2 separate regions of the Homo sapiens genome follow, and region 2 is linked to region 1. Evidence: fine-mapped expression QTL. A gene starts in region 1. The other region holds a variant in brackets. All regions are shown on one strand. Distances are from middle to middle. Region 1 holds the start of CNGA4 (cyclic nucleotide gated channel subunit alpha 4). Region 2 has its middle 28 kb from the start of OR56A1.

Region 1 (4,399 bases):
GCGGTTGACGTGCTGCAGCTTCATGTACTTCTTCACCAGTGCATGATCTGGGTAGAAAGCCGCATCTGCAGTGTTCATGTTGTAGATGACAGAGCTCATGCTACCCATGATGGTGGCGAAACCCATGACGGCCAGCAGGAAGTCGCCCACCATGAAGAGGTACTCTTCTTCCCTGGCTGGCGGCGGTGTATCGCCCACTGTAGTCAGTATCAGCGTGGAGAAGTAAAAGCTATAGAGGTACTGGCGCCGCAGGCGCTCAAAGCCAGGCTGCGCGGGGTCCGGGTACACCCATGCGTCACGCCCGAAGCCCAGGTACCGGGATAGGGCAAAGTATAGGCAGCTGTTCCAATGGATGACGACAAAAATGTAAAGCATCAGCTTGGCAATGCGAAAGGCATTTGGGTAAGCTGTGCGGGTCTCTGTGCGGTCGAAGGCCTCGAAGAGGCGGGGCGCGCGGAGAAAGCGGTTCAGCCTCAGGGTGGGTGTGTGCGGGCCCAGCCGCACGTAGACCACATCTGTGGGCATCAGGGAAGCCAGGTCCAAGAAGAAACTCCAGGTGCGAACGTAGCGACTCGAGATCCTACCCTTGTCCACCACCAGGATGCCCTGTTCCAAGAATCCTGGGGAGAGGGAGCCGGTAGGAAGCGGACCTGCTGTAGTCAAGCTTGGGCTGAGCATGAGCTGCCCAGGGCAGGCCAGGGAGACTGTCTGAAGGACAGAGTGGAGCCAGGCATAACTCTGCTCCCGGCTTTCCGGGGTGAGCACTGGGATGCTGTCAGGCATAGAGGCACGCGAAGGTGCTACCACGGTGGGGGTGCCTTTCTTGTTACTTCTTAAGTGGCTATCTTTAGGAAGGGAATGTGGGACAAAGGGTCATTCCTAGAAGCCCACTGACCTGTGTGGAAGCGCACCACCATGTCTAGTAGGTATAGCAGGTCACTCGTGTAGTCCAGCACCAACCAGGCCACCAGATAACCGTGCTGCAAGTCGGGGAAGCAGGCTCTGCAGGGCAGGGTTAAGCATGATTGAATTAAGGGCACCCTCTGTGTGCGAGGCGTCTCCCCAGGGCCCTTAACCCTCTGCCTCAGGCCCTCCCATGGGAATTGCTCCTCCTGCCCCACCAAGGGTCTGCCCTTCTCCTTGACCTCTCTTTAGTCCTCTTTTTGGCTTCCAGCCCCTCCCTTAGCACCGCTGCCATACCTGCACACGAGGATGATGAGGTTATACATGACTGGGAAGACCATTGTGTTCAGCCACCAGTAGTAGTAATCCCCAGATGGGTCCAGGACAGGCAGCAACTTCCTGTAAGAAAGAAAGTCTTGCTTCATTTATTCACCAGGCATTCAAAGCTGTAGTTGTGACTGGGGCACCAAGAGGAATGAGGAGAGATCCCACACAAGGGACCAGGACTTCTCACCTGGCCTTGGATGGGGCTGGGGGACTGGACTCTGTTGTCTTCACTTTGGTGTCCTGGCTCATGGTTCTGTGGTCTGGTGCTGGGGTGTGAGATGTCCACACCCTCTCTGCCTGTAGGGGACTTCTGGAGTTGGGCACTAGTGCCTGACTGCCTGAAGGAGGCTGCTGTTGGGCTTCTGCTGTGACTTCTTTGTCTTTGGGGCTCTTAGCAACACAACCAGAGCTAGCGCTACTGAAGGGGTGGAGACAGTCTAGCTCTAGCACTCTGCCCTGTCTCCCAGGGCCTGGGCTTACACCTGCCCAGCTAAACACCTCTAATGAGATCCCTGGAGAAGGTGGGGGTGCATGCCTCAGAGGGAAGCCTGAGTCTTGTCTCTGTTTTCCTCCTCCCCTCTTTCCACAGCAACTGAGCTACATAGGTGTCCTCTGGGTCAGAAGACCTCAGTTTTAGTGTAGGATCAAACACTCTGTTTTATCTTTGCAAATTCTATTTGGGCCTCACTATTTATTTATTTAACAACTATTACTGAATGGCTTATCTATGTCAGGTGCTAAACTATTCTCCAGGGACAAAGAGATGCCTCTCACATGAGAAGTGAGCTCTATTTTTGTAACCTACTTCCTACCCTTATCTACCTCCACATACGCCTTCCCCCATCACACCATTCTCATAGGTAGTGTGATAGGGGCCATCCTATGGTGCTTTTGTCCTCATATCCTTCTTGTGACTTCTAGTGCCTGATCCTACCAACCATTCCATGTGTTTTATGGTCCCCAATCTTTCAACTTTTCTCTTTTTGTGAACCTGCTTCAATATCTCCTATATCAAAACAAACAAAAACCCTACAATTTCTCCCTCAACCTGATGTTCCTTTCACTGCTATCATCTTTCTCAGTCAACAAATCAAAATCAGAACACCCATAGGCAGGTGTTCTGTGTGCCAGGCCAATATTGTGCTAAATACTAGGAATTGGAGATGAATAAGACACGCTCCCCCTTCTCCAGAAGCTCACAGTCTGCTAGGTGAAATAGTCAGGCCAGCAGGTAATTACACATGAGGTAACTAAACAGCAGCAGTCATTGCCAGGCTGCTGATGAGTACTCTGTTAGCTGGATACACGGAAGGCTATTATAGTACACATGAAGTGGCCCTACAGAGCCTGGGTTCTGCAGGATGAATAGGAGTTGGGTACAGAGATGGGAGGGTGAAGAGCACTAGAGGCAGAATGCACAGAGTGGGCAAAGGCATAGAGATATCAAAAAGCGTGGGTGACTGGGCAAATATCAATTGGCTTATTTTAGAGGGCCTAGCGGGTAGTGGTGAGAGATGAGGTTGAATGATAGACAGAGGCCAGCTCAGGAGGAGTTCTGTCAGCCATGTTATAAAGCTTGGATTTTACCCAACGGCAATAGAGAACCTGTGAAGAGTTTTTCACAGTTCAGTGATAAAATCAGGTTTGTGTTTTTGGAGTGTGTTTTAGAAGAAAAACCTGTGGTCCCTAATTAAATTTTGAAAAACTCTCTTTTCCCATGGCTTCTTAATTTCTTTTTGCAAAGTATTACGCTTGTTAAAATAAAAAGACAACATTCAAAGTAATGCAACAAAATGAATAAAATCCTTTGTAATGCCATAATGTCTTGGTTTGCTGTTTCTTTTTAGTGTCTTTCATAAGCTCCTCTGTCTATTCCTTCTATGATGGTGTTTTTTTTTTTTCTTGGATTCTGTTCTAGGCTTTCTACTTTTGCCATCCTCCTAACTCTGTCTGATTGACGTCAGTCACCCACAGGACTTCCTTTCTCATATAGTGGCTCCCGAGAACTCTCCCTGAGTTTCAGTTATCTATATGACTAACTGCTCACTGGATGTTCCTACTTGGGTATCCCGCGGTCACCTTCAACCCATTGGGTCTATAACTAAGCTCATTATCTTCCTCCACTTTTTCTTCTAGAATTCCTATCTATGCCCTTTCAGCAAAAAAACCTATGACAAGCATTTATTACTATTTACTGTATAATGTTGTGGCAGTTAAAAAAAATGGTCACAAATTCTTCGACACCACTCCCTTGTGATAGTTTGTATAGCAGGAGTGATGTTGTGTGACTTCTAAGGCTAGATCATAAAAGGCCATGCAGCTTCCCTCTGGTTCTCTTGGAATGCGTGTTGTCTGGTAGCTCCCTCTCAGAATGTTCCCTCTTGGAACCTACCCATCACATTGTGAGAAGTTCTGTTTGACAGTTTGCCCAATGAGTTCAGCTTTTTCATTATCCCAGCCCAGGAATTAGATGTGTGACTGAAGAAGCCTCCAGATGCTTCCAGCCACCAGCCTCAAACCACCTCTAGATGTTCAAGCTTTACAAATAAGGCCCCAGACATCATGGAATAGAGACAAGCCATTCCTGTTGCATCTCGTCCAAATTCCCAGAATTTGTGCACATAATAAAATGGCTATTGTTTTTATGACACTAAGTTTGGGTTGGTTTGTCACATAGCATAGTAACCAGAACAAACAAACACAGAGAAAGGTGTACAATCCTTAAGTATATAGCTTAATACATTTTCACAAAGTGAACACACCCATATAACCAAGCACTCAGATCAAGAAACAGAACATCACCAGTGCCTCAGGAGCCCCACTCTGCCCCTTTCAGTCAATGTTTTTCCAAGAATAATCACTATCCTGAATTCTAATATCACAGTTTAGTTTTACCTGTTTTTGAATTTATATAAACTAAGCATTAGTTTTTAATTCTTCCTCTTATTTTCCTCTTATATCCACCCAATCATCAAACCATGGTGATCTACCTTCTAAAAATCCACATGTCCACTTCTCTGCATTTTTGCTACTCTAGTTTGGGCCTTATCAGCTTGTTTGGTCTTTTGCAAAGTTACTGTATAACTATCAATCTATGTATAAAATTCTTTATAGCTATCATCCCAAAAATAAAATCTAAATTCCTTAACATGGTTTATAAAGTTCTCCA
Region 2 (4,399 bases), 180 kb after region 1:
TAAAGCCACGGGTGCCTTCCACAAACACATACCTGTTCTTCAACTTCTCAGCTATAAAATGAGAAATGAGCTGATGGTTGTAACAGAAGGGGAGTAGCTAAGAAAGAGAATTAACTTCCTCAGTATGTGGAATATTAAGCACTGAAAGGTGATTTTTTTTTTTTTTTTTGCAAGAGTATAAGATTCCCCTGGAAGTCTCAATAAAAATGTCATCATTATTTTAAGTTGACTCTTGAAGAAAGACAAAGGCTGGGAGACATATGCCCACCTAGAATTTCAGAACTTATAGTTGTTATATTGAGAGTTTGGGGGCAATATGATAGTTCCCAAACATTATTGATTTGTAAAAAAGACACACTGAGTGATCTATAGATGCATAATCCACAAGAACTGAGTCATTCTTGACTTTTAAAAATCTTCACATGTACATGTACACGAACCACCACCCCAACAAAGAAAAATATAGTTGTTTCAGACTACATCTGTCTTTTAAGATAAACATACAGACACAAATGTAACCAGTTGCAAGTTTCTTATTTTAATACTTGAGGGGTGAATCCCATGGAGAAGGTTAAACAGACAGCTGTTTATTCAATAGTTCATGTTAACGTGGGGTGTCAGAGACACTGAATTGCTATAACATCATGATGACAGGTAAACATATCAAAAGTTTGAATCAGAGAAGCAGAGTCATGAAGACAAAGAAGAAAGGAAAGGTAATTATAGTTATCTTTTTAAACATTAATAATATTGCTATTAATATTTGCCATTACTTTCAACGGCAAAAATCACAATTACTTTTGTACCAACTTAATAAAAGATGACTAAGAGCTCATAGCCATCTTTTATTAGTAACATTAAAAAAGAACTATAATTTATAGACTATACTTTATAAGGTAACCTATATATCAAGACTTTACATACATTAGTTAAAATTTTTAGTATTTAAGATTAATATTATTTATTCTAATATGAAATAAGGAAATTAAGACTTAGAGAGTTTTAGAAGCCTAGCAAGATTTTATTCCTAGAATATGAAATGGACAGAATTTTAACAAACTTTGCCCGCAAAGCTTGTATTTATCACACTGCATTGTGAAGCATCCATGCTAGCTTATAATCATGACATGTAATGAGATACAGTTCTTTAAAACAAGCCATTAAGATGCTGACAGGATTTCTATGATGGAGATAAGCAAGAAAGTTATGGATGAACAAAGAAGGATCATAACATACAGTGCTCGTGACATAATCACTCTTGACCTAACACAGCCAATGAGTCCTTTTGAGCAGCAGAAGAGAGTAGACTCTAAATTTTCAAGAGTGAGGAAGACCAATTCAGATAAAGGAAGTGGAAGAAAGACTACACAAAAGGCATATGTAAAATAGGAGAGTTTAGTCATATAACTCCAAGAATGTTGGAATGGTTTAGTAAAACATACATGTAGAAATATGTTAACTGTAAGACCAAAGTAATACACAATAGATAACCCTTGAAAACCTTTAATGCAGTCTTAAGAGTATGATTTTATTCCATGCAATAGATTCACTGAAGGATTTTAGCCATAGGCACGACATAACGACATCTGCATTTTAGGAAAAACCTGACTTTAAGGTTGAGAGTGAATTGGGAAGATGTTTACAGCAAAGGCAGAGAGATGTAATGAAACAGTACAGGTGAGAGAAGTTGGATGTTTGACATCGGGGGTTGAAAACAGGAGTGGATATAACAGCTATGTGTTAAAAATGCAGTTAACAGGAATTGGCGAATGGGGAAAAGGGATGAGAGATAAGAATAAGTAAAGATAGTTTCCGAGTTTCTAGATTGGGTTTGGTAGATGGATAGTAATGTAATTCATAAAAATATTGCCAAAGGTAGGTAGGACAGATTTAAGAAGGATAGATGAATTAATTTAGTTTTGAATATGTTGAGGCTATAGTATAGCTATTCAGGAAGCAAATGGAAAGAATGATTTGTGTTTCAGAAAGATATTTGACTTAGAAACACAGATTTGAAAGAAATAAAAGTAGATAGATAAAACTATGAAAGTGGATGAGGTCAATTCAGAGATAATGTACTGAATAGGGAAAAGAGGAGAGGATGGATCCCTGGAATCAACAACATAATGAGATGGAGAAAATGGTGGGACTGAGGCTATAGGAGAAACAACTCTAGAGTGCCACTTCACGGAAACTGAGGGAGGCTAATTTCAAAAACAACAGTTTAATTTACTGTGTTCAGTAACGCCAAGAGGCTAATAAAGAGAACCCTTTGAAGTTGGCAGCTTCAAAACATAAGCAACTGAATGGTTAAAGCTTATGCATCTCTCCCAAAACAGTGTATGTTTACTCTTATCTCTAAAAAAACTAGACCTATTCTAATTCAGACATGTGGATGTCTCACCTGTAAAAAAATTTATCT[C/T]CACCAAAGATTTTCTTTCTTGTATCTAACTTTATTCCCTTTGGTTGCAGTTTTAGTCACTTTATTCTTCTCATGAAGATGGTAGACAATGTGATCTGGACTATGTGATAATGTACCAGAAATGCAGAAATCATGAATTTGGATTCTTTTTTCTCTTTCCTCCTCAAGTCATTGATAATGGCGCTTAGCAATTCCAGCTGGAGGCTACCCCAGCCTTCTTTTTTCCTGGTAGGAATTCCGGGTTTAGAGGAAAGCCAGCACTGGATCGCACTGCCCCTGGGCATCCTTTACCTCCTTGCTCTAGTGGGCAATGTTACCATTCTCTTCATCATCTGGATGGACCCATCCTTGCACCAACCTATGTACCTCTTCCTGTCCATGCTAGCTGCCATCGACCTGGTTGTGGCCTCCTCCACTGCACCCAAAGCCCTTGCAGTGCTCCTGGTTCGTGCCCAAGAGATTGGTTACACTGTCTGCCTGATCCAGATGTTCTTCACCCATGCATTCTCCTCCATGGAGTCAGGGGTACTTGTGGCCATGGCTCTGGATCGCTATGTAGCCATTTGTCACCCCTTGCACCATTCCACGATCCTGCATCCAGGGGTCATAGGGCACATCGGAATGGTGGTGCTGGTGCGGGGATTACTACTCCTCATCCCCTTCCTCATTCTGTTGCGAAAACTTATCTTCTGCCAAGCCACCATCATAGGCCATGCCTATTGTGAACATATGGCTGTTGTGAAACTTGCCTGCTCAGAAACCACAGTCAATCGAGCTTATGGGCTGACTGTGGCCTTGCTTGTGGTTGGGCTGGATGTCCTGGCCATTGGTGTTTCCTATGCCCACATTCTCCAGGCAGTGCTGAAGGTACCAGGAAATGAGGCCCGACTTAAGGCGTTTAGCACATGTGGCTCTCATGTTTGTGTCATCCTGGTCTTCTATATCCCGGGAATGTTCTCCTTCCTCACTCACCGCTTTGGTCATCATGTACCCCATCACGTCCATGTTCTTCTGGCCATACTGTATCGCCTTGTGCCACCTGCACTCAATCCTCTTGTCTATGGGGTGAAGACCCAGAAGATCCACCAGTGAGTGCTCAGGGTGTTTACACTAAAGGATTGACCTGAATATATTCTCACTGTTTCCTTCAGAGGCACCTGCCAGGACATAGCCAGGAACTCATGGCTGGTGCAGATTATATGGATGGGGTAATTTTCACAGCGAGCAGTCCTTCTAGTGTCACATATCACAGCAAAGAATATCCAGAGGCACCTGGCTTCACAGCTTATTGGGATGTATCTGGATACCTGAATTTGTGAATAGTTTTTCCATTCTTTCTTTTGCTCCTGATTCCAACATTTTCCTACTCCTGTGTCAGAGAGACTTGAGGACAGTAGAAATGGATGACAGCTCTGGATGTGTCATCTTTCCTGCCATTGCCCAGTGATAGACTATGCAACATTCTCTGGAATGGCAATGGGAAGTCCCACCCTCAGCTTGGTTTTAGGTTTAGAGTGTCTTCCAAACCTCTAAGTTTGTGCTGGCAGCACATTTACATGGTACAGCCATTCAGCTAAATGCTAGTGTTAACCCTTTAGATGAACCTTTTCGTGTCTTTTAGGATGACTTAGATTCCTTTACTTTTCTGCCACATCAAAATGCATAAATTAGGACATTTCTAAAATATTTATTATGCATATTATAAATGACTTTTTTCTTGCATTTACTCTTTTCTTTAAGGGATGAGTTTCTCCGCTTGTTCAGCCTGGTCCTTTCTTCACGATACTAGTTTTTTCTCAATTATTTGTAGATTTTTACTCTTATTTGTTTGTAGATGAGAATTAAATGGTTGGGTCCTCGCTGTGAGTTTTCTCAGAGCCTGTAAAGGTCACTGCTCTTGTGCCCCAATTGTAGGACTTTGTAGGTCATTGTACACGGATTTGCTAACAGACAGAATTCTCCTCAGGCTGTCAAGAG

What was found. PIP is the estimated chance that this variant, and not a neighbour inherited with it, causes the effect.
Region 2: its variant is the best candidate, but not a certain one, in a credible set for the expression of CNGA4 in whole blood (INTERVAL, PIP 0.86).

The regions. Positions count from the first base shown.
Region 1 is chr11:6,236,287-6,240,685 of GRCh38, reverse strand. It overlaps CNGA4 (cyclic nucleotide gated channel subunit alpha 4), which reads right to left and starts at 1,597. Exons shown (of 6, transcript NM_001037329.4): 1 at 1,418-1,597; 2 at 1,201-1,302; 3 at 896-1,002; 4 at 1-620. The coding sequence starts at 1,479.
Region 2 is chr11:6,056,431-6,060,829 of GRCh38, reverse strand. It overlaps the pseudogene OR52L2P. Among named protein-coding and RNA genes, the nearest start is that of OR56A1, 28 kb to the right of the region's middle. The variant C/T (reference allele first, on the strand shown) is at 2,423.